2 linked regions of the Homo sapiens genome follow. The protein of the gene in region 2 interacts with the protein of the main gene of each other region in a pairwise test. Each region holds a gene or a part of one and is shown on either strand. Other genes may lie near its edges.

Region 1 (11,431 bases), on a different chromosome or scaffold from region 2:
TTAAAACACTAGCACCTTATTGTACAAAAAATGGCTACTCATCCACCAAAGAGTTCTATTCCTTTCCCAAAGTAAATTATTTTTACTAAGAAACAGTTGCCCAGCCAGGGACTGTATTTCCTAGCTTCCTTGAATCTAGTTGAGGCCATGTGACTGGTTCTGCCAATAGAATGTAAGCAGAAGTGATGTGTTTCCCTTGCTGGTGAAGGCAGTCAACACGGTTTCCTTTTGCCATACTCTTTCCCCCTTGCAGTGACTCTGGAGACCACATGAAGATGGTGGCATCACAAGAAGGAATGAACCTTGATCCCTGAGTCACCTGAAGGACAGCTACCCAGGAGAGCTGCCCAACAGGAATAACTGATTAGGACTTGTGTGAGCTAGATTAAACCACTGAGGTTTGGAAATGTTTGTTACAGCAGTTAGCCTACCTTACAGCATACAGAATATACCTGTATCGGTGAAAGACTCAAATCATGATTTATTGAAGTATTTCTAAGATAAATGCAACTATTGAGGAATCATATGTATAAGAAGAGCTTGCAGGTTACCATTTTTGCCACTTACCTACCCCATTCATCTGAGTTTAAAACCAGTGTGAGCCTGGGCAACAAGGTGAAACCCTGTCTCTACCAAAAATACAAAAATAGTAGGGCGTGGTGTTATGTGCCTGTAGTCCCAGCTACTTAGGAGGCTGAGGTGAGAGGATGGCTTTGAGCCCAGGAGGCAGAGGTTGCAGTGAGTTGAAATTGCACCACTGCACTCTAGCCTGGGTGACAGCGAGACCTTGCCTCAAAAATAAAATAAAATAAAATGAAACCAGTCTGAATGAGTAGAGACCTACTTATTAAGTAAATTCTGATATTTAACATCTTTTCTAACACTGTGTAAATTCTATAGCTCATCTGTATCACTGGATATGAAACAAGGTAGGACGTATTGTATGCTATATTTAGAATACATTTGGAACATAAAGTGTAAACCAGAAGACACTCTTAAAATTAAATTTGCCTCCCCCAAAGCAGAATGTACTGGACTTCAGTCATTCAGTACCATCTTCATGAGTTTTTCCATAGCTGTGTACCTAATATATTATTATTTACTTCATATTTTTCTAGACCTAAGGAGGGCACAGAGAGATGTGGCAGTTGTGAGACTTCAGTTCCACATCTGCCCTATTCAGAAGTCCAAGATGTTCATTCTGGGACTTCCTTTGGCTCTTGAGGAATTGGTCCTGGAGTTTTCAGGATCCAGATGAATAGCTGGGGGCTCTGAGGAAAAAGAACTGGTCGGGCTTATCTGGGGTCTGAGCAGAAAGAAAGCCTCTTGTAACTGGTGGGGGAAAGATATGTCAGAGAACTGAAATGGGATAAGACATCCAAATAAAGGGGCCTTTTATGGGGTGGGGGTAGGTAGGAATCTGTAAATATTTCCTTATAGCGCTTACTAACCTTTTTTGACTTAGGAAACCATTTGAGAATCTGATGAAAGCTATGGAACTTCTTCCCCCTCAAACATACATAAGAGCATTCACTTAAATACTTATACATAATTTTGGGAGATCTTAGAGTATTTGTAGCCCACCACTGAACCCCAGGTTAAAAATTCTTATTTTAGTGACAAATTTAATAGCTGATCCTCAGGTTTATAAAGGAACCCACCAGTAAATAATGCAGACACTTCCCTATAAAAGAGAGAGAACATAGCTATTTCTTCCATCTCTTCCCCCTTGACGGGATGAGGAAGAGCTGGGAAATAGAGATAATGTCACCCCTAAGCTTTTCTCTGCTGCTGTCCCTAACCTCAGTGCCTTGGTACAGTCCAGCAGTGGGGCACCATCAACAGAATTTGTTTTTAAAAAACGTTTAAAAACTTTATTTTGAAATAATATTAGTCTTACATAGAAGTTGCAAAAATAGTACATGAATTCCCTATTCTGTCCTCCCCCTACCCCTGGTAACTACCATTCTACTTTCTGTCTCCATGTGTATGACTACTCTAGGTACCTAATATAAACAGAATCATACAATATTGTCCCTTCTGTGACTAACTTATTTCACCTAGCATAATGTTTTCAAAGTTTACTATTTTGGACCCCCTGACTGGGTGTTTTGCAACTATAGCAAATTAAAATGGGCAATGTAGAAAATCTGAAAATTTCAATGGAAACTAGTATACCAAACATGTCTGGACACTGCTGAACCTATTAACTGGAGGTAGTTTGCAGTTTCAACAGTAGATCATGTTACATTCCTATCCAAGACAATACATCTTTGCAAAGCTGGGTTTTCTGTGGCTGCTGTGATAAAAGCCAAATGCTGCGGAAATATTAATGTGAAACAGGAAATGAGAGTGGCAGTGTCCAACACGATCCCAAGGTTTGAAAAGTAGTATAGGCACACACATACGGTTAGTAATTATGACTTTAAAGGATGTAAAATATTTTTTCTCTCAGTTTATGTATATTATTTTTTCAAACAACTTCTAAGTAAATACTCAGTTGTTTGAACCTAACTACTAACTACTGAAACCTAAGGGAATTGTGAAAAAATTACTAACTACTGAAGCCTAAGGGAATTGTGAAAAAATTAACTCAGACACTAAGGGCTCCATGAAACCAAGTTTCAGAATCTTTGCCTTAACCAAGAAGTAACAAAACAGTGTAAGATTCACCAAGGAAAGCCATGTGACCTTGAAGAAATAAAACAAAGACAATAACACAAACATATCAACCAGGAAGAGGAATTTGGGTTGTTAAAACCATTTTTAAAGGTCACTCTTAGCTTAATCCTTCAAATCCCACACAATGCCTTCTGGATAATTTGCATTTTTAAAAAAACTTCTAAAACGCACGCACCCAAATTACTGTTTTCCCACTTCTTAGGGACTCAAGCAAAGCTTTTAAAATCACAGCCATCAATCTATGTTGGAAGAGACTGGGTCTCCCCTACACAGACAGAACACACCTTCGGGATCCGTGCCAGGGAGACAGGAGAAACTTGGAAGAAGACAGAGACTAAAAGATCCCCCGACTTTGAGACTTTCGGCTTTTTTGTGGTTTGTATCTTACCCTCAATAGCCTGCTTTTAAGTTCAATAACAATGCTCCTTGAGAAAAAAAGAAAAATAAAGAATGCTCCAGGTTATTGTGGAAATGCTTGTTGGGAAACTTCCTTTCCTCAGGGTTTTTCATATAAGCAAGGGAAAAAGTTAACACAACATCCAGAATAGTGGTTCCTTGGGTGGGAGGCGAGAAGTGAGTGGAAGGCAATGGAGAGGGGTACTCAGGGGCTCCAGGGGCCTGGCGATGTTCTAGTTCTTCAGCCGGGTGACTCGTACTTGGGTGTGATCTATTGTTATTCTTTACATTGCACTCTAAGGTTTATACTGTCTGAGTGTATGATGTATTTCACAGTGGCAGCACCAGCATCTCTATACAAGAAGGAGGCCTTGGGAGTTGGAAGTGTGCCTTGTCTCTAAGCTGAGTTGGATCGCAGGCAGTCTGCTTTTACATGGAGCATATGCTTATCTGGAAAGGCTTTGGGGAGGCTGATGAGTTTAAGTGGGAGACTAAGATTAATTTTTGGTGCCACCATGAAAAAACAAGGAGTTAATAAATTCACATTTTTAAAAATTACCATTGGTTTATACCTCCCAACACTGCGACTAGTTGTTTTCTGGTCTCTTTAATTCCTCTTCATCCCTCTTCTACCCTTCCCCCATGTCCAGTATGACCTAGAGGGCAGAAAATACTCCCCAATTTTAATTTGTATCCCTAATTTTTAAAAAATTTTTTGTTACCATATGCTAAACAAATACTAAAGATGACAAAGTGTAACATGTATCGGTATAGACACACCTACTACACTCAAGAACAAGGCTGCAGACCAGTACAGTGGCTCACACCTGTAATCCCAACACTTTGGGAGGCTGAGACAGGAGGAGTTCGAGACCAGCTTAGGCAACACAGTGAGACTCTGTCTCTAGTAAAATAAAAAAATTCAAAATTAGCCAGGTGTGGTGGTCCCAGGCTGAGGTGGGAAGATCGGTTGAGCTAAGGAGGTCAAAGCTTACAGCCTGGGCAACAGAGCGAAACTCTGTCTCAAAACAACAACAACAAAAACCCCGCCAAGGCTGCTATTGGTGTTTTGGGGATGAGAAACCCCCAATCAGTATACCATGGATGGGACCACCTTGGACCCAGGTGTGTTTGTCTTCATTGCCCAAGTTCTTTCCACTTACACTGGCCTAACAGAACCTAAGCATGAATGAATTCAACATCCAACAGGTTCGCAAAAGGTGTCTAACACACAAGAGTACAATGCCAAGCATTTCATTCCCATCACTTCACTGCATGAACACAATACTACGAGGTTATGTACAATACCTGCAGTTTAGAGTTCTAAAAACTAAGGTTTAAAGAAGTGGGTTTTCCAAAGTCACACACCTAACAAGTGGTGGAGTCAGAACTCCATCTCACGGGCCCGAAGTGGCTCTTTACTACCACGTGACCCATCTCATGCTACCTCGCGGGGGAAACATTCTTGACCAGCTTTGAGACATTCAAGTCCCTCTTGGGTCACAAATAATGCTGCACTTCCCCTCCAGTCCCCGAGATCTACCGGAAGCAACACACTTAAAAGCCCAAGATAAGCTTGGGTGAGCTGATGTCTGGACCCAAACCAGACAGCACGCCGACTCTCTGGACCCCGGGAGATGCCACTTGCTGAGGCTTCGCCGATGGGGCTCCTGAGGGGTATCGGCCCCTCTCCTGCGACTGCACCCTAGTGCTGTCGTCCAGGGCGGGGAGGGACGGGGTCATTCGGAGGCGGCCGCAGGCCAGGGACCTACCCTCCTACGCGCCGCAGACCGCGGGGTACTCGGACCCCCGCCCCCACCGCCCTTCCTTCAAACTGCAAGCGAGCAGGAGAACGAGGGACGAGCCCCAGAAGAAAGTTCTCCACCTCCCTCGCCCGAAGTTCCATATTCCAGGGAGGCAACTGATGCCAGGCGAAGAGGGAGGCGCCCCGGGGGGACCCCCTCGCGCCGGGCGTTTTCGGAGGCCGCAGGCCAGGGGGCGAGGCGCGGTGTCCGGGTCTCCTCCGCGGGCAGTCGGCGATCCTGGGGTGCCGAGGGAGCAGCGCCCCCTTCCCCCGACAGCGTCCTCCCCGACCTGAGGCGCCCACCCCGGTGTAAGCGGGGGTCCCAGGGAGCCGGCGAGGTCGCCTGGTACCTTTCTCTCCCGCGCCGGACGTCCGCGCCGCAGGGACCAAGGCCGGCGACACGGTGGGGGGCGAGGGGCGAAGACGGGGACTGGCTCCCGCTGGCTCCGGCGGCCCCAGGGCCTCGGCGCCGCCCAGCGCCGTGCCTCCAGCCGCCCGCGCGCCAGGCAGCGCTCTCGGCTCCTGCGGGTTACCTGTGGCCGAGCCCGCCGCGTCCGCCGCCGCAGGGCCCTCTGCCCCGTCCCGCCGGCCCCGCCCCACCCCTGCCGGCGGCTCCTACGCCGGTGCCGCAGCGCCTCCCAGCGGCGAGCCGGGGCACGGCAGGGACCCTCGCGAGAGAGAGGTGGCACCGCGGAGGCCCTGGGGCTGGCCCCGATCTGCAGCCCTCTCCTGGGTGGGGCCACCGCCTTCTGAAGAGTGGGAGGAAGGGGGCCTATAGTAGGGTGAGGTTTTCCGCGTGGGGGTTGCCAGGAAGTGTATTGGGAGGGGAGGAGAATTAGCAGGAGGAACCTCCCACCTTCACTCAATTCGTGGCCAAGTGGATATTTCAATATAACCATAGCTCACTTAACTGGGGCTGCTCAGTACAAACTGAACAACAATGATGAATGACCCAGATTTATTGGGGTAGCTGGAGAGGGGAAAGGAAGCCTTTATTTCTAACAGCTTGACTATAAGTATCTTGTTGGAATCATCCCATATGGAAATGGCAAAAGCATTGAGCGAGCCTGACCCCCATATTCATATCACACTTTACATACCATTATCTCAGTCTGGTTTTGTCTATTTTCATTCACAGCCACTTCTTCAATACCTAGAAGAGCTCCCTGAACACAGGAAGCATTCAATAAGCTACTGTTGAATACATGTAAGATGGATGGGATCTCATTCCACCCTTTGAAGAAGCATGGACAGGTATCTGCTCTCCAAAGGCGGAGAGATGGAAGAGGAGGCAAGCAGCACCCTAAAATGGACTATCAATCTTACCTGAGGTTTTGGGACAAGCTTATCACGAATCTGATTTTTTTTTCTTTCTTGCTTAAAATTTTTTTTTGAGACGAAGTCTCACTCTGTCACCCAGGCTGGAGTGCAATGGCACCATCTAGGCTCACTGCAACCTCCGCCTCCCAGGTTCAAGTGATTCTCCTGCCTCAGCCTCCTGAGTAGCTGGGATTACAGGTGCCCGCCACCATCCCTGGCTAATTTTTGTATTTTTAGTAGAGATGGGGTTTCACCATATTGGTCAGGCTGGTCTCGAACTCCTGACCTCGTGATCCTCCAGCCTCGGCCTCCCAAAGTGCTGGGATTACAGGCATGAGCCACTGCACCCAGCCGACTTTTCTTATTCCCTCTGAAACAGGCCTGGTTTCCAGGAGAAAAGAAACATGATGATTTCTTCCTTTTCCTTAAGATGTTTGTTTCCCTCTCTCCTTCAGGGATCATTAGGCAGGAGAGATCCCAAGAGCCTGTTTCCACACTAGGAAGGGGAAGTTCTTGATTTTCTCCTACTGCTTCTGAAATTTTCCCAACCCCATAGTCACAGCTGCAGTTTTACCTAACAGGATGTGAAATCTCTCTTCTGAGTATCCTTTGGCCTTTTCCAGACTTTTTTTTCCCCCTTAAGATGGGGCCTTGCTGTGTCACCCAGGCTGAAGTGCAGTAGCCCACTGCAGTCTTGAACTCCTGGGCTCAAGCAATCCTCCTGCCTCTGCCTCCTGAATAGTTGGGATTACAAGTGTGCACCACCATGCCCAGCTAATTTTTTTATGTTTAACACAGAGGAGGTCAAGGCTGGTCTTGAACTCCTGGGCTCAAGTAATCCTCCGGCCTCAGCCTCCCAAAGTGTTGGGATTACAGGTGTGAGCCACCGCGCCCAGCCCTTCTTCAGATTTGTGCCCCATTCCTGTTGCTCTACACCTGGAGCTGATAGAAGAACACATTTCCTTTCTCTGCTGGCTTGTAGCTCCAGGTTTCTCTCCAGGCAGGTTACTAATGAGTTCCTAGATAACCCTCAAAGTCAAAGTTTGTACACATGACCTTTCTTTTTATTTTTTGAGATGGAGTTTTGCTTTTATTGCCCAGGCTAGAGTGCAGTGGTGCAATCTCGGCTCACTGCAACCTCCACCTTCCGGTTTCAAGCAATTCTCCTGCCTCAGCCTCCCAAGTAGCTGGGATTACAGGCGCCTGCCACCACGCCCAGCTAATTTTTTTGTATTTTTAGTAGAGACGGAGTTTCACCATGTTGGTCAGGCTGATCTCGAACTGCTGACCTTGTGATCCACCTGCCTCAGCCTCCCAAAGTGCTGGGATTACAGGTGTGAGCCACCGCGCCCAGCCACATGACCTTTCAATGTGATCATTTCTCTCTTGTACTTTTCCACATTGAGTTTTCCTAGCTAGTCCCTCGAATAAACTTCCAAAGATGCAAATGCTCAGTTTCCCTGATAGGCTTTTAAAACATCACCAGAAAGTCACATTGAGATGAGATTTTAAGTTATATTTGTGGGTAGTCAGAGCAATGACCCCGAAAGAAACAGAAAGCCCAAGCCAGCCTGCAAGACATGTGAGCGCTCCTGGGAACTGACTGGTCTGCTTTTGTTCCCAGACTTTGATTAATGGGGATTCCTGGCAGGAGGTCTCATGAGAGCCAAAGCAGGCAGTGGCTGAGCTGCTTGGAGATCTTGCTTGCTTATCTCCAAGTGGGCAGACAGTCTTTGGGCGACCAACGAAGAAGACTCCTAAATCTCCCTCTTTATGAGAAGGGCTCCCAGGCTGCAGCTCTGTTCTTGCCCCTACGTTCAGCTCAATCACAGCCAGCCTCTTATATTCACCCTAGCTCACCCTCCTTCTGCCTTGTGAGAAAGAAGTTTGCTCTGCAAATGATCATTTTCACTGCTTTGTGATAATATAATCTGCTCCTATTTTCAACAACATGTCTTTAATGAGCTGACTGCATTAGCTGTCTTTCATGTTGTTAGCTTCAACGCAGCCTTCAACACACCATTCTGGCTTCCATCCCTGCCACTCCACTGAAACTGCCTTTGCTAAAGCTTCCACTCAAGGAAGAACCCTTCCATCTGCCGCTCTATAATCATATCCTTCTCTTTCAGAGGAAACCACCATCCTAAGTTTTGTGTTAATAATTATGTTATCACAAATATATGTGTCCCTAAACACTACATGGTTTGTTTTTGCGTGTTTTTGAGCTTTTTTAAAATAGAATCATTCTGCATTATTCCCATGCAACTTGCAGCTTTTGCCCAGCATTATGTTTCTGAGATTCACCTATCTGATTTCTCTGTTATATAGGTATTTTGTTGTAAAAACATAACACAATTTAATTACCCATTCTACTTTTGGATGTTGGATTGGCTCCAGTTTTTGCTATTGCAAACAGTGTTGCTGTGAATATTCTTAAATATTTCTCCGATACATGTGTGTAAGAATGTTTTTTAGGATATATACCTAGAAGTGGAATCATCAGGTCTTAAGGTAAGTGCACGTTCAAATTTACTAGGTAATGTCAAACTGTCTAAACTGGTTGTTTTCTAAAATTGTTTTCTAAAGTGGTCATACCAATTTTCATTTCTAACACCTGTATATGAAAGTCATCTGGCCGGGCATGGTGGCTCACGCCTGTAAATCCCAGCACTTTGGGAGGTCGAGGCGGGTGGATCACGAAGTCAGGAGATCGAGACCATCCTGGCTAACACGGTGAAACCCCATCTCTACTAAAAATACAAAAAATTAGCCTGGCATGGTGGCGGACGCCTGTAGTCCCAGCTACTCGGGAGGCTGAGGCAGGAGAATGGCGTGAACCCAGGAGGTGGAGCTTGCAGTGAGATCGTGCCACTGCACTCCAGCCTGGGTGACAGAGCGGGACTCCGTCTCAGAAAAAAAAAAAAGAAAGTCATCCATGTCCCACAATCTTTGCCAGCACTTGTTTTCATCTAAATGATCTCTCATAATAGTTGTAGTTTGTATTTCCCCAATTACCAGTATGGCTGAGCATCTTTAATGTTTAATAGCTAGTCCTGTTTCCTCTTTTGTTAATTGATGGTGTCTTTTGCCTTGTTTCATGTGTTTTGAGAAGTCCTTTCTGACCCCAAGGATATAAAAATATTCTCCCATATTTTATTTCAAGTGTTACAATTTTGTCTTTCATGTGTAAGTCCACATTCTATCTGAAATTCATTTCTCCTTTCATTTGCAATGCCAGAACTCTCTTACAATGGATTTTTATACACATATAGGTTTGTTTTCGGTCCTCTATTTTGTTCCATTTGTCTATCCCTCTGCTAGCATCATACTGCCTGAAATCTTTGGTTTTCTTTTTTTTTTCTTTCTCTTTCTCTCTTTCTTTTCTCTTTTTTTTTCTTTTTGAAAGAGCCTCGCTCTGTTGCCCAGGCCAGAGCATAGTAACATGATCTTGGCTCACTGCAACCTCCTTCTCCTGGGTTCAAGTGATTCTCCTGCCTCAGCCTCCTGAGTAGCTGGGATTACAGTTGCATGCCACCACGCCCAGCTAATTTTTTTAAAATTATTTTTTAGTAGAGACAGGGTTTCACCGTGTTGGCCAGGCTGGTCTTGAACTCCTGACCTCAAGTGATCCACCCGCCTTGGCCTCCCAAAGTGCTGGGATTACAGGTGTGAGCCACTGTGCCTAGCCTGTGGTTTTATTTCAAGTGTTGATTTCCAAATATACAAGTCCTACCCTGACTTATTTCTCTTTTTTATTTATACAGATCTCAAGTATTCTTAGCTCTTTTCTCCTTCATAGACATTTTCTAATTCATTTGTTATGATAAACTTGAGATTTTAATTTGAAATCTCAAATCTCAGTAAATATATGTGGTGGATTGCATTGTTCATTCACAATTATTCGTACCCTTTCCATCTTTGCCATGCTTTTCTATAGGTCGGGTAAACCAGTCTGCTCCATTGGTTTTGGGCTTGTGTTGACTTGCCTTGGCAAACACCACATTGGAACAGAAGCTTAAAATATGTTGTATGCTTTAGTGCTTCCCCTACCTCCCTTGAGCTTCTGCCATTTGCCATGAGAATATCATGCCCCAAAGAGTGGCTGCACCTTCCGTGGGGATCCAGAATGAAAAGACAAATGGAATCATGCAGAGTCCAATATGGCCACAAAAAGTCTGCAGCCTTCATGTAATAGAAGCAAGAATGTTTCCTACTACTGCTATTTGGAAAAAATTGGCATCTTTATGATATTAAGTCATTGGTACAATGTGTGTGTGTGTGTGTGTGTGTGTGTGTGTGTAGCTCTGTGCAATTTTATCACATATGTAGTTTCATATAACCACCATTCTATCAAAATACAGAACTATGCCATCACCACAAAGAATCATCCTCATGCTACTTAATTATAGTTACACCCAACCCCCTCCCCGACACCATCCCTAATCTCTGACAACCACTAATCTGTTCTCCATCTCTATAATTTTGTCATTTTAAGAATGTTACGTAGGCCAGGCGCGGTGGCTCATGCCTGTAATCCCAGCACTTTGGGAGGCCAAGGCGGGGGCGGATCACTTGAGGTCAGGAGTTCAAGACCAGCCTGGCCAAAACGGCAAAACTCCATCTCTACCAAAAATAACAAAAATTAGCTGGGCATGGTGGCATGCCTGTAGTCCCAGCTACTCGAGAGGCTGAGGCAGAAGAATCGCTTGAACCCAGGAGGCAGAGGTTGCAGTGAGCCGAGATCACACCACTGCACTCCAGCCTGGGCAACAAAGCAAGATTCCATCTCAAAAAAACCCAGAATATTATGTAAATGAAATCATACAGTATGTGGCCTTTTGAGGCTGCCTTTTTCTTCATTCAGCATAATGCCCTTGAGATTCATCCAAGTTGTTGTGTGTGTCAACTGTTGATTCTTTCCATTGCTAAGTAGTATTCCACAGTGTGGATATACTACAGTTTGTTTAGCCATTCACCCATTGAACAGCATCTGGGTTTGGGTTATTATGAATAAAGCTGCTGTGAACATTCATATACATGTTTTCATATGAACATAGTTTTCACTTCTCTGGGATAAGTAACCAGAAGGGCAATTGCTGGGTCATTTTGTAGTCGCATGTTTAGTGTTTAAGAAACTGCCAAACTGTTTTCCAGGGTGGCTATACCATTTTACACTTCCCACCACCAATGTATGAGATATCTGAGTTTTCTGTATCCTTGCCAGCATTT
Region 2 (11,793 bases):
GGAATTTTTCTTCTTCCAGTTCCTCTCAGCAATCGGCGTGGTCTCTCTGTCTCTCTCAAGTCAGCAGGGGCTCATCTGAACCTCCTCTCTGGAAAGAAAAGGAAGGGGGGAGGTGGGGAGAGAGAAAAGGGTATTGATCTAATCAAAACCAGATCTACCCAACATCAAAGCAAGAAAGTAAACAGGCTTTTCAACTCCTCAAATTCAAATCAAGCAACCCAGCTATCTGCGAGGTGCTCATCTAAAGTATCAGGCGCTGCTTTTCAAAAGCGAAATCTGAGCTCCCTGCACACTTTTCGGGGTTGGGGGTGGGAGGGAGCTGTTGGGAAAGAGGCGGGGAAGGTGAGAGGAAGGCAAGAGCTGGGGACGGCAGGGGGACACTGGAGGTGTAAGACACAACCTTCCAAAAACCCACTCGGCCAGGGCGCACGCAGGGCAGCTCAGCCCGCGCCTCGCCTTCCCTCCCTTCCCCTCCCCCGATACCATCAACTCCAAAAAGGCGCACTCCCAGCCGCTAGGCTGTGTGCAGGTGAAACCAATTTCGGTATATTTCCCCACTCGGCCCTGCACAGATAACTCGAGCTCCAAACGTGCCCTTCCCCGGCATCTGGTTCCCATTCTCCCCACCCACCCCCTCCCTCTGCGCTCCCTCTTCCCACTCCTTAAAAATTCAGAAGATCCTGGCCCAAGAGAAGCCCGCCCAGCATAGGCGGATTGGGCTCCCGGACTCCCAGATTCAGCACGCAAACACCCCCTCCCCAACTCAGATTTGAGTGTTCGCTACGCGCCCCCTACCCCCACCAAGAATCCAGCTCAGTCAACACCTCTGTCTTCCCTGACCTCCCCCCAAACCAGAAACCAACTCACTCAGGGGAGACTTTCATCTTCAAACTTTGAGAGAGAGCTGAGAAGCCTCGGAACCGTCGCCCCCGTGCCCCCAACCCACCTCCCGGATCCGCGAAACCTACAAAACTGGATCACCAGCCGTCTCACGCCACTACTGCCTGTGCCAAGAATCCCAAACTCTACTGATTTCAAGCCTGTCTTTTTTCCAAAGAAAAAAGTCTTATCTAACCAATAAACAAGCTGCTTTCCCTAGCACGGAAAAGATCAAACTAAGAAGGGTAGGGGCTGAACGGGGTGCAACCCCGGGCGAGAAGCCAGGGACCCCGGATCTGGGATGGGTGCACGCTGAACCCGACCAGAGCCTCGAGCCGCGGGGCTGGGCGGCGCGGCCCACGGAGAAGTGGGGCTGCCGTTGGCACCGCGCTACCCGGGCGGTGGGAGGTGGAGCGGCCCCGTTACCTGGAAGACGAAGGCCGCCGAAGCCAGGCTCTCATGTCCTCCGAGCCCCTCCGGCCCGGTCCCCCGGCCCAAATGCAACTGAACGCCTCCAGAGCCCTGGCGGGCACACCTCGAGGCCGGAACCCCGGGACACGCCAGCAGCGCCCCGAGCCCGGGCGGGGGGTCGGTCCCCGGCGCCGCCGTTTGCAGAGGCGCCCGCAGAAAAAGCACAGAAAGCAGCAGCCTAGTCCAGAAATGGCGACGCGCGGAGTCTCTGCCTCTCCGCAAAAGGGGCCGGGGCGGCCACGGGCGAGGGGCCCGGGCCGGGAGGAGGGACGCGAGGGACACGGGCGCCCCGGACTTGGGCCGGTCCTGCGCGCAGACTGAGCCTCCGCCAGCGCTGTGGGCCCCTTAGCGCGGACCCGCGGCAGGGAGGGGAAAAGGGGAGGGGGAAGAGAAGTAGGAGGAGAGGATGGGGCGGAGGAGAGGCGGGGGGCGGGGGAGGGCAAGCGGGGGGCGCCGCTACCCTTTCATCCCACCTCCCAAAGGCACTCCCGCGCGCACTCACACGCCGACTCACATCCATAACCGCGACAGCGACGCGACCCCCGGGGGGTATCTGCCCCCTCTCCGCCCCCGCCACTGCCGCCACTCGGATAAGTCTCCTCTCTGGGCCCCCCGCCAACCCGGTCACCGCGCTGGGGAGGGGGCTCCGGCGCAGGGCGCGCAAGGCTGCCCGGCCAAGCCCCCCGGAACGCTGGGCGCCGGGTCCGCCGCTCCCCTCCGCGCCGGCCCCTAGCGCGCCCCGAAATAGCCGGCCTGCCAACTTCAAAGGGCCGCCCCGCACATCAAAGCGCGCGGTCCGCCCGGCCGCCTCGGCCTCGGCACTCACCATTGATCCCCGCGCGCGCTCGGCGGCGAGACCTCGCAGGCGCCCCTGGCAGGGGCCCGGCCCCGGCCCCCGGCTCGGCTCGCGGCGGCAGCCCCGGGCCCCCCCGGGCCGGCCGCGGCGTCGGGGAACATGGGGAGTCGTGCGGCGGGGGAGGGGGTGCGGGAAACAACAATCCCGGGTTCAGAGCGAAAGCCACCGGCCGGGGAGGGGGAACGGCGCGCCCCGCCGCCCCTTTTATGCAAAAGATCCGAGCGGGCCTCCGCCCCCGCCCGGCCCGGCTTTCAACGCAGGTCCTGTTTCCAGCAGTCACTCGGCGCACCAAATGTCCTCCGGGCGCTTCCAACAAAAACTGCGCTGTGGATTTAACTGTGCACTTCAAAGGCGCGAGCCGAGCGCACGGTCCTGAAAGGGAGGTACGCGCCGGCCGCGCCCCGGGCCGCCCCCCGCAGCCCCGCCACCGCTCCGCAGGGCCGCCCCGCCCGCGCCCCCCTCCAGGCCCGGCCTCCGCCTGGCCGGGCCCCCTCCCGCCCCCCGCGCCCACGCCGCGGCTCGGCGCGACCTCGCCCCCTGTAAGAGGGGGGCTTTCTTTGAAGCGGCTCCGCTGGGGCCGAGCTTCCACCCCCACCTTTTACAGCAGGGCCTTCGGCGGGCGCCTCGGCCGCCGGGCGGCCCCGAAATCCATCGCTCTGAGGGGTTATTTTTATTTCCCGGCTCTCGGGCTGTTACTGAGTTGCCAGGACCTTATCAAAGCGCAGCCGGCTCCAGCCGACTCCCCCGGGCCAGGCTCGCGGAGCCAGTGATCCCGCCGCGCCAATCACAGCCGCGCTCGGCCGGCCCGCGCCGCCCGCCTTAAAGGGACAGCGCCCCGCGCCCGCCCCGCCCCGCCCCGGCCCGCCCCCGCCGCACGCTCCGCTCCCGCGTTAACCCTTCCCCGGCCTCTCCTCCGCCCCCTGCCAGCCCCCCGCGGCCCCGAGGGCATTCTCAGCCCGAGTTCTGATTTCTTCTTTTAAGTTCTCCGGCCTCTTTGCTCCCGCCTCCTCCCCCTGCCTGCCCTCGCTCTCCCCGGCTCTGGAATGCAACAGTTTCTGGTAGCATTATGGCCATCGCAAGAACTGCAAGCAAGCAGATTTTTTTTTTTCTATCATCAAACGCTTTTCTACCTCTATTCAAGTTTCCCTGGGAATTTGGGCTTGGAGGACTTTATAAAGGGAGTTCCGGCCCTGGGGTTGGCTGGCCCGCTGTCATAGGGCGGACTCGGGCCCAGCCGCTGGAGGCGTGTGCATGCCTGTGCGCGCTTGTGCACGTGCATCTGAGTTCGGGTAAATATAGGACTGCAGTTGGTGGATGAATTGCGTTTGTGCATGTGTGAAAGTGGGGTGTGAATCCGCCAGTATAGGCCTGAGTGCTAACACCAGTTAGGAGGCATACCTCAGTGCCCTGAAGACCTAGGTCCAGCTTCCTAACCTGCTGGCCATAAGACCCTCGTAGCGGCACACATTGGCCATCTCTCCCAAACAACTGCATACCCGTTACTCTTCCAAAGTCCCCTCTTCTGCCATATGTTACATATTAAACCGATAGGAATATCTTTTTTCCCACTCCAAACGACAAGGCATGCATGCCGTTTTAATGTATCGAAAACTCCTCACCCCATTGTCACCTTTGAATTTCTCCCACATTTGCCCAAAAACGTTTATAAGGCACACACAACCTTCTCTTCTCCGTTAAAATGAGAAAATATGTCACAAACCCAGAGCATTGTGTATTTATTCTGCTGCTGCTATAGAATGATTCCTTATGTTATGAGCGAATAATTAACTTTTCTTCCTTTTAAAAAACAAAGGGCCGGGGACGGTGGCTCATGCCTGTAATCCCAGCATTTTGGGAGGCCCATGCTGGAGGATCATCTGAGGTCAGGAGTTCGAGACCAGCCTGCCTAATATGGCGAAACCCCGTCTCTACTAAAAATACAAAAATCAGCCGGGTGTGGTGGCACGTGCCTGTAGTCCCAGCTACTCGGGAGGCTGAGGCAGGAGAATCGCTTGAACCTAGGAGACGGGGGTGGGGGGGTTGCAGTGAGCCAAGATGGCACCACTGCACGCCAGGCTGGGTGACAAAGCGAGACTCCCTCAAAAAAAAAAAAAAAAAACACACACACACACACACATAAAGGTGTGAACCAAAGAGATCCAAGAAGTGAAAGGCAGAGTCCTGGCCTCAGAGCTGTGCAAGGCTCTTACTCTCCAACTTAATGGATGACGAGCCCTTTTAAATGCGAGATGGCCTGTCATTAGGCCTTCAGAACTTTAAAACATGCAAGAATTGTGGCTCTATCTAGGTATCCATAGAAAAAGAGAAGGAAGAGGCTGGGTGTGGTGGCTCACCCGTGTAATCCCAGCACTTCGGGAGGCCAAGGCAGGCGGATCACCTGAGGTCAGGCATTCGAGACCAGCCTGGCCAACATAGTGAAACCCTGTCCCTACTAAAACTACAAATATTAGCCAGGCGTGGTGGGGGGCGCCTGTAGTCCCAGCTACTCGGGAGGCTGAGGCAGGAGAATCATTTAAACACAGGAGGTTAAGGTTGCAGTGAGCCTGGGCGACAGAGCAAGACTCCATCTCAAAAAAAAAAAAGAAAAGAAAAAAAGAGGAGGAAGATCCACCACCCATGATCTGCTGGAAAGGGGCAGGTGGCAGGACTGTGCGCCACCTGCCCTCAGCCTAAGGGACTGTGACAAGGGACTAGAAAGCTCTTAGACTTTCTAGTCTAAGACTCTGGACTCTGGCTCGTGGGTGCCATGACAGGTGGCCGCTCCTCCCCAAAACCTGCCTTTCGGTGCCCATGGTCTGCAGCTCCAGGCTCTCGACCCCAGGCAGCCAGGTTGGCATAAAGACAGCAGTACCAGCCCTGAAATGTGGCCCTGAAGCCAGCCAGGAAGGCCAGGGAAAGAGTGTGGCCCGATGACTCATCTTTGCCTTAGGACAACTGCTGGTGTGAGGAAACCAGTGGGCTCTAAAAGCCCCGGCCTGCTGGTATTCTGGGGGGTCAGTGGCCCATGGACCCTCTTAGCCACCAGCTCTGAGCTGGCCCAGGGCCAAGAACACAGCCACCACCTTTGGCCACCCCAGGAGTGCCAAGAGTAAAACTGTCACTGTGGTTCCAGGGAGTCTTTGGGCCACAGAGGGTGTTATTACTGGAACAGAAATGTAGACAGAGGGGTATGGATTGCCATAAAAGTGTCTACCATATAAACAACAGTAAAGTCACACACACACACACACACACACACACACACACACACACACACACAATGTGGGGGGTGGGGGAGAGAGAAAAATCAAAACATCTAAAATCAAAATAAACAATGTTCAGAAAAAAGAGGTTTTCAAAAAGGAAGTGGAAACTTGGTCTTTGTGGGTGGTTTTCCTCTCCTCCCAGTTGTCCCCACCGACCCGTCACTGCCTCCCCCAACCAGCCCTAATCACTGTAGGCTCAACTTTAACCAAAGGACTACCTCATTATCCCATGGCTGCGACTGTAGCAAGAGGGGACTGGGACTGGGACTGGGGACCCAGGAGCAAGGCCCGGTTTGGTTTGGATCTTCTCGGTCAATAATAACTGCTCTGAGGGCCGGGGTGCAGTGGCTCATGCCTGTAATCCCAGCACTTTGGGAGGCCAAGGCAGGTGGATCACCTGAGGTTAGGAGTTCGAGACCAGCCTGACCGACATGGAGAAACTCCTTCTCTACTAAAAATACAAAATTAGTCAGGCATGGTGGCGCATACCTGTAATCCCAGCTACTTGAGAGGCGGAGGCAGGAGAATCGCTTGAACCCAGGAGACGGAGGTTGTGGTGAGCCGAGATCGTGCCATTGCACTCCAGCCTGGGCAACAAGAGCAAACTCCGTCTCAAAAAATAAATAAATAAAAAATAACTCCTCTGAGAGCATGGTTTCCAGAACAGGTGCTCGGGTCACTTTAGGGCAGTGACTCCCTCCACCATCACCCCTGGCCTGTCCCCTTTCCTACAGCTTTATATCTGGTGGGACACTTCCCTCCCAGCAGGAGGCTGGGCCAAGTACTGGAAAGCCCTCTCTCTAGCCTCTGGGTCTCTGACTACTTGTTGATAATATTTCTAGAGGAGAATCCAAAGTCCTGTGCTTATAGCAGCCCGTTTCTCAAGATAGCACGTTTTCCATTTTCCCCTTGTCCCTGGCAGCAGCGCTATCATGTGACTTGTTGTAATCCTGCACGGTTGCCTGGAAACTGGAAAGCAAGGTGATGGATTTCTGCACATGCTCACTCGCCCCCCCGCTCCACCTTTAAAGAAAAACCCTACGGAGGATAAACAGTCCACTTTGCCTAAGTGCAGACAAGTTTAATAAAGCAGAGAGTGATTCTTTGCTGGAATTATATACTGGGCTGAAATCCTAGAATCCCAGAAAACAAGGACTAAGGGCTCCCTGGGAGGCATCTGGCCAGATCTCTGACCTTTAGTCAGCCCCACAAAAACCACTGTGGAGGGGAAGTCACACCAGCTGGGACTTCAGAGGAGCTGAGACCCAGGACACTGCTCTCTCAGATTCAGTAACTTTGTCTTTTATTCCTTTGGAAAAGTGCTGCCTTAGACAATGTACCTTTGTTTGGGGAGGAAGGTGAAGAGAGACACAGGTAACCTTTCCTAAGACTGGAGGTTACCTAACCACACGGAGTTTCCATTTGTTCACCTGTAGACTGGAGGAAACCTCCCCTGCAAAGGCTGTTGTGAGCCTGAGCAATACGATAAATGCCTGGCACAGAGCTGGACACACAATAGAACATGGCGGTTATTTTCACAGAGTAAGTCTGTTCCCTCAATAGCCTGTTACCTATTCTGGGAAGAAACTCCCTATCTCCAAAGCAAAGATACCGTCCATTGGGAGTGACGATCTGGGGAAGAATGACCCCAGGAGGCTGACCATAGGGGGCCTAAAGGAGATAAAGGAGGCTGTGCCCTGCTACCATCTTTCAAGGATAGTCCTATGCAGAAAGAAATAAGCCCAGGGGCCATTCAAGAGTTATCTAGTCCAACCCTTCATTTAAGAAACCAGACAAATTGGCTGGGTGTGGTGGCTCACACCTGTAATGCCAGCACTTTGGGAGGCTGAGGTGGGCAGATCACCTGAGGTTAGGAGTTCGAGACCAGCCTGTCCAACATGGTGAAACCCTGTCTCTACTAAAATTACAAAAATTAGCTGAGCATGGTGATGCATGCCTGTAATCCCAGCTACTCGGGAGGCTGAGGCAGGAGAATCGCCTGAACCCGAGAGGCAGAGGTTGCATTGAGCGGAGACTGCGCCATTGCACTCCAGCCTGGGCAACAAGAGCGAAACTCTGTCTCCAAAAAAGAAAGAAAGAAAGAAAGAAATCAGACAAATTAAGCAAAGAGAAAGTGAGATTTCCCCAGGATCACTTTGCCCATATCAGAGATGAGCTGGAACTTCTGAGGGGTCCTGACTCCTGGCCCAGCCTCTTTTTCCTCCACACCATAGTGAGGAGACCCAGGGAGGGGCTGGCTGAGATGGAGGGGGTGAGACCATCTGGAGGTCTTGACTTTTACAACAGGACTAATACATACAATCTGGGATACTTTCCTGAAAGAATCACAACAGGGCTTCTGTCTGAAATCCCTCTAAGGCACGCTTCATCCAGCCCCTACCTGTAGGTAGGTTGCCTTGGCTCTGCCAGCTGGGCTACCCACAGCCTGATCTGGGACAGTTTGACCCACGTCTTTTAGAGTGGCAGCCATTTACATGGGCATCTCCGTGGAGTTGATCCACCTAAGGAGGAATGGACCTACTTCCTCTCCCCTTTGCAGAGGAGGGACTGGGAATGCCAAGGTGGAGATTTTGAAGCCACAAGGGGAAAAGTAAGGTTTCCCTAAGAAATCCCATCTTCAAGGCCAGGTGCAGTGACTCACACCTGTAATCCCAGCGCTTTGGGAGCCCAAGTAGGTGGATCAGCTGATGTCAGGAGTTCAAGACCAGCCTGGCCAACATGGCAAAACCCCATCTCTACTGAAAATACAAAAATTAGCCTGGTGTGGTGGCAGACACCTGTAATCCCAGCTACTCGGGAGGCTGAGGCAGGAGAATCATTTGAACCCAGGAGGCAGAGGTTGCAGTGAGCCGAGATCGTGCCACTGCACTCCAGCCTGGGCGACAGAGTGAGACTCTGCCTCAAAAGAAAAGAAAAGAAATCCCATCTTCAGAAGTGTTGGGGGAATTTATTTGTTGATAAAATATCTTTTTTTAATATGAAATTTAAAACACAGTTAAACAGTAATTTAAAACTTCCTAATTGGACTGACTTTCAAGTGCTTTTATTATGGATTGTAAATAGAGCTGCAAACTGCTGATTTTTTTTCAGCATCTCACCCTTCGTGGTCTTCAAGTTTGGCTTTTAGGAGTTGGCCTGAGCTTGTAACCAGAGGAGAGCACCGATATACCTATATTAAAACAAATCCAGAAAGAGGTTTTGCTTTCTTTTTTCTTTATTATTATTATTTTATTTTATGTATGTATGTATGTATTTATTTATTTTTGTTTTTTGAGATGGAGTCTCGCTGTGTCGCCCAGACTAGAGTGCAGTGGCATGATCTCGATTCACTGCAACCTCCACCTCCCGGGTTCAAGCAATTCTCCTTTCTCAGCCTCCCAAGCAGCTGGGATTACAGGCACCCGCTACCACACCCGGCTAATTTTTTTTTTTTTTTTGTATTTTCAGTAGAGATGGGGTTTCCCCATGTTGGCCCTGTGATTCCCCCATCCTGACCTTGTGATCCGCCTGCCTTGGCCTCCCAAAATGCTGGCATTACAGGCATGAGCCACCGCCCCCGGACCAGAGGTTCTGTTTTCTTAAGTGATCTTCTCCACAGTGAGAGACACCAAAACAAAGGGCGAGGTTGGGGGAGAAAACAGCCCCGAAAGGTCATTTTTAGAAAAGGAACTGGAAAATAGAAAGGAATCCCCCTAAAGTCGTCACGCCAACCTGCGACGCGTGTTCCTAAACCGCCCCCCGTAGACATTTTTCTCACCTTCTGATATCTTATTTTGCTCATTTTAAACAACTTCTGGAAAGCAAAGTTTAGCTGAGCTTGAAATAAGTTGCCTTATTCACCTCTGGGCACAGTGGCTCATGCCTGTAATCCCAGTACTTTGGGAGGCCGAGGCGGGTGGATCACGAGGTCAGATAGAGCCCATCCTGGCTAATATGGTGAAACCCCGTCTCTACTAAAAAAAATACAAAAAGTTAGCCGGGCGTGGTGGCACGCGCCTGTAATCCCAGCTACTTGGAAGGGTGAGCAGGAGAATAGTTTGAACTCGGGAGGTGGAGGTTGCAGTGAGCCGAGATGGCGTCACTGCACTCCAGCCTGGGGGACAGAGCAAGACTCTGTCTCAAAAAAAAAAAAAAAGAAACCTGGGCCACATCTAGACTCCGCCTTCTCCCTCAAACGCCTCCATTCATTCACCCAGCCCTGTTGATTCTGCCTCTAAAAAAATCTCCCACCACCACCTCCTGCTCTGCAAATCCACAACTGCTATCAGGGCCCTTGCCAGGGACAGCCAAATGTTCTAATGATGCTTCACACCTACAGTTTATAGCCCTAACCCCTGACCCCCCTCACGCAGTGCTGCAATGGTAAACGCTGTGCAGTGCAGAGCCACCCATGTCATTCTCCTGCTTCAGATCCTCCCCGGCTGCACATAACCTTCAGGATAAGGCCCAGAACCCTATGTGTGGTGCACAGGTAGCCGGCCCAAGCCCAGGCCCTTTTCCAGCTCTATTTCTTTTTCTATCTTTTTTTGTTTGTTTGTTTGAGATGGAGGAGCCTCGCTCTTGTTGCCCAGGCTGGAATGCAGTGGCCCAATCTTGGCTCACTGGAACTTCCGCCTCCCAGGTTGAAGTGATTCTCCTGCCTCAGCCTCCAGAGTAGCTGCGACTACAGGCGCATGCCACCACGTCTGGCTAATTTTCATATTTTTAGTAGAGACGGGGATTCACCATGTTGGCTAGGCTGGTCTTGATCTCCTGACCTCAGGTGATCCACCCACCTCGGCCTCCCAAAGTACAGGAATTACAGGCGTGAGCCACCATGCCTGGCCCTCCAGCTGTATTTCTTGCTGACACCCCCTTGTCCCTACCATATGCATGGTGGATTGCCTCTCCTTTTCCTCCCTGGCCGACTGCCCTCCCTCTGCCACTTCTTCAGTCCTCTCCCACCTCATCCCCCGAGACCGGGCTAGAGCCCATCCTCCTACTTCTGTGGCATCTGGGGCTCACCTCTAGCAAACACTGTGGTTGATCTACTTCTCTGTCCCACCCACTCAACCATGAACTCTCTGAGGACAGGGACCGTGTTTTGTGATACTTGCATCCCTTGAACTAGATTGTGGGAAGGAGGGACCTGGGCGATATTTAATAGCTGGTGAAACCTGTGTACCGGCCAATCAGAACTGATACCAGCCTAGGGTCTGGAACAGGGTCTTGGAAACCCCCTGCCAGAGTCAAGCCAGTAGTCGCTGTGTCACGAGGAGCTGTGGTTGGCATCCTCTAAGTTGGGCCCTAATGATCCCTGCTTCCTAGTTCCACACCCTGCATACTTCCCTCCCCTTGAGCATGGATAGCATTTGACTCTCTCCTAATAAATAGAGTATGGCTGATGTGACAGCACATCCACTCCACATTAGGCTATCGAAAGGCTGCGATTCCTTCCTTAGGTGCTTTCCCTAGAATCTTGAGGCATCCCTGTTGAGGGACCCGTGTGACGAGGGACAAGCCCTGCCACCAACCAAGTGATCTCAGAAGCCGAACGCCACCTAGGCAAGCCTTGACATGATGCAGGTCCAGCTGCTGGCTTGCTGGTAGCCTCATGGAAACCTCAAGGAGGAGGCACCCGGCTAAGCCATGTCCAGATTCTGGACCCACAGATGAAGATGTATCCTCTGGGGAGGGGAGTGGTGAAAACTGACCTGCTGATGAGACTTCGCCCTGTCAGTTAACATTGCTAATGGTAAGAACCCAGTTGCAAGACATACAGGTTGTGAATCTTTTCTATACTTTATTTTTTTTATGTTTTCTTTTTCTGAGACAGAGTCTCGCTCTGTTGCCCAGGCTGGAGTGCAATGACGTGATCTCAGCTCAGTGCAACCTCTGTACCCAGGTTAAGGTGAATCTCCTGCCTCAGCCTCCCGAGTAGCTGGGACTACAGGTGTGCACCACCATGCCTGGCTGATTTTTGTAGTTCTAGTGGACACGGGGGTTACACCGTGTTGGCCAGGTTGGTCTCAAACTCCTGACCTTGAGTGATCGGCCAGCCTCAGCCTCCCAAAGTGCTGGGATTACAGGCGTGAGGCACCATACCCGGCCCTTTTCTGTACTTTATGAAATGACAGCACGTTGATGGTCAATGACGACAAGCATAAGCTATTGGCAATAATTATCACATATTTGGGCCAAGCCCAGTGGCTCGCGCCTATAATCCCAGCACTTTGAGAGGCCAAGGCAGGTGGATCACCTGAGGTCAGAAGTTCGAAACCAGCCTGGCCAACATGGCAAAACCCCATCTGTGCTAAAAAT

What was found.
Region 1: the proteins of AXIN2 (region 2) and ANKRD6 interact in a two-hybrid assay, tested with the Homo sapiens proteins (one study listed by BioGRID).

Annotation. Positions count from the first base shown.
Region 1 is NC_000006.12:89,427,177-89,438,607, reverse strand, and holds the start of ANKRD6 (ankyrin repeat domain-containing protein 6), read right to left. Parts: upstream 5,457-11,431; 5' UTR 5,233-5,456; intron 5,192-5,232; exon of another isoform or gene 1-5,191. UniProt on the Homo sapiens protein: Recruits CKI-epsilon to the beta-catenin degradation complex that consists of AXN1 or AXN2 and GSK3-beta and allows efficient phosphorylation of beta-catenin, thereby inhibiting beta-catenin/Tcf signals.
Region 2 is NC_000017.11:65,558,649-65,570,441, forward strand, and holds the start of AXIN2 (axin-2), read right to left. Parts: upstream 3,001-11,793; 5' UTR 2,802-3,000; intron 2,530-2,801; exon of another isoform or gene 2,177-2,529; intron 2,092-2,176; exon of another isoform or gene 1,865-2,091; intron 1,670-1,864; exon of another isoform or gene 868-1,669; intron 89-867; 5' UTR 1-88. UniProt on the Homo sapiens protein: Inhibitor of the Wnt signaling pathway. Down-regulates beta-catenin. Probably facilitate the phosphorylation of beta-catenin and APC by GSK3B.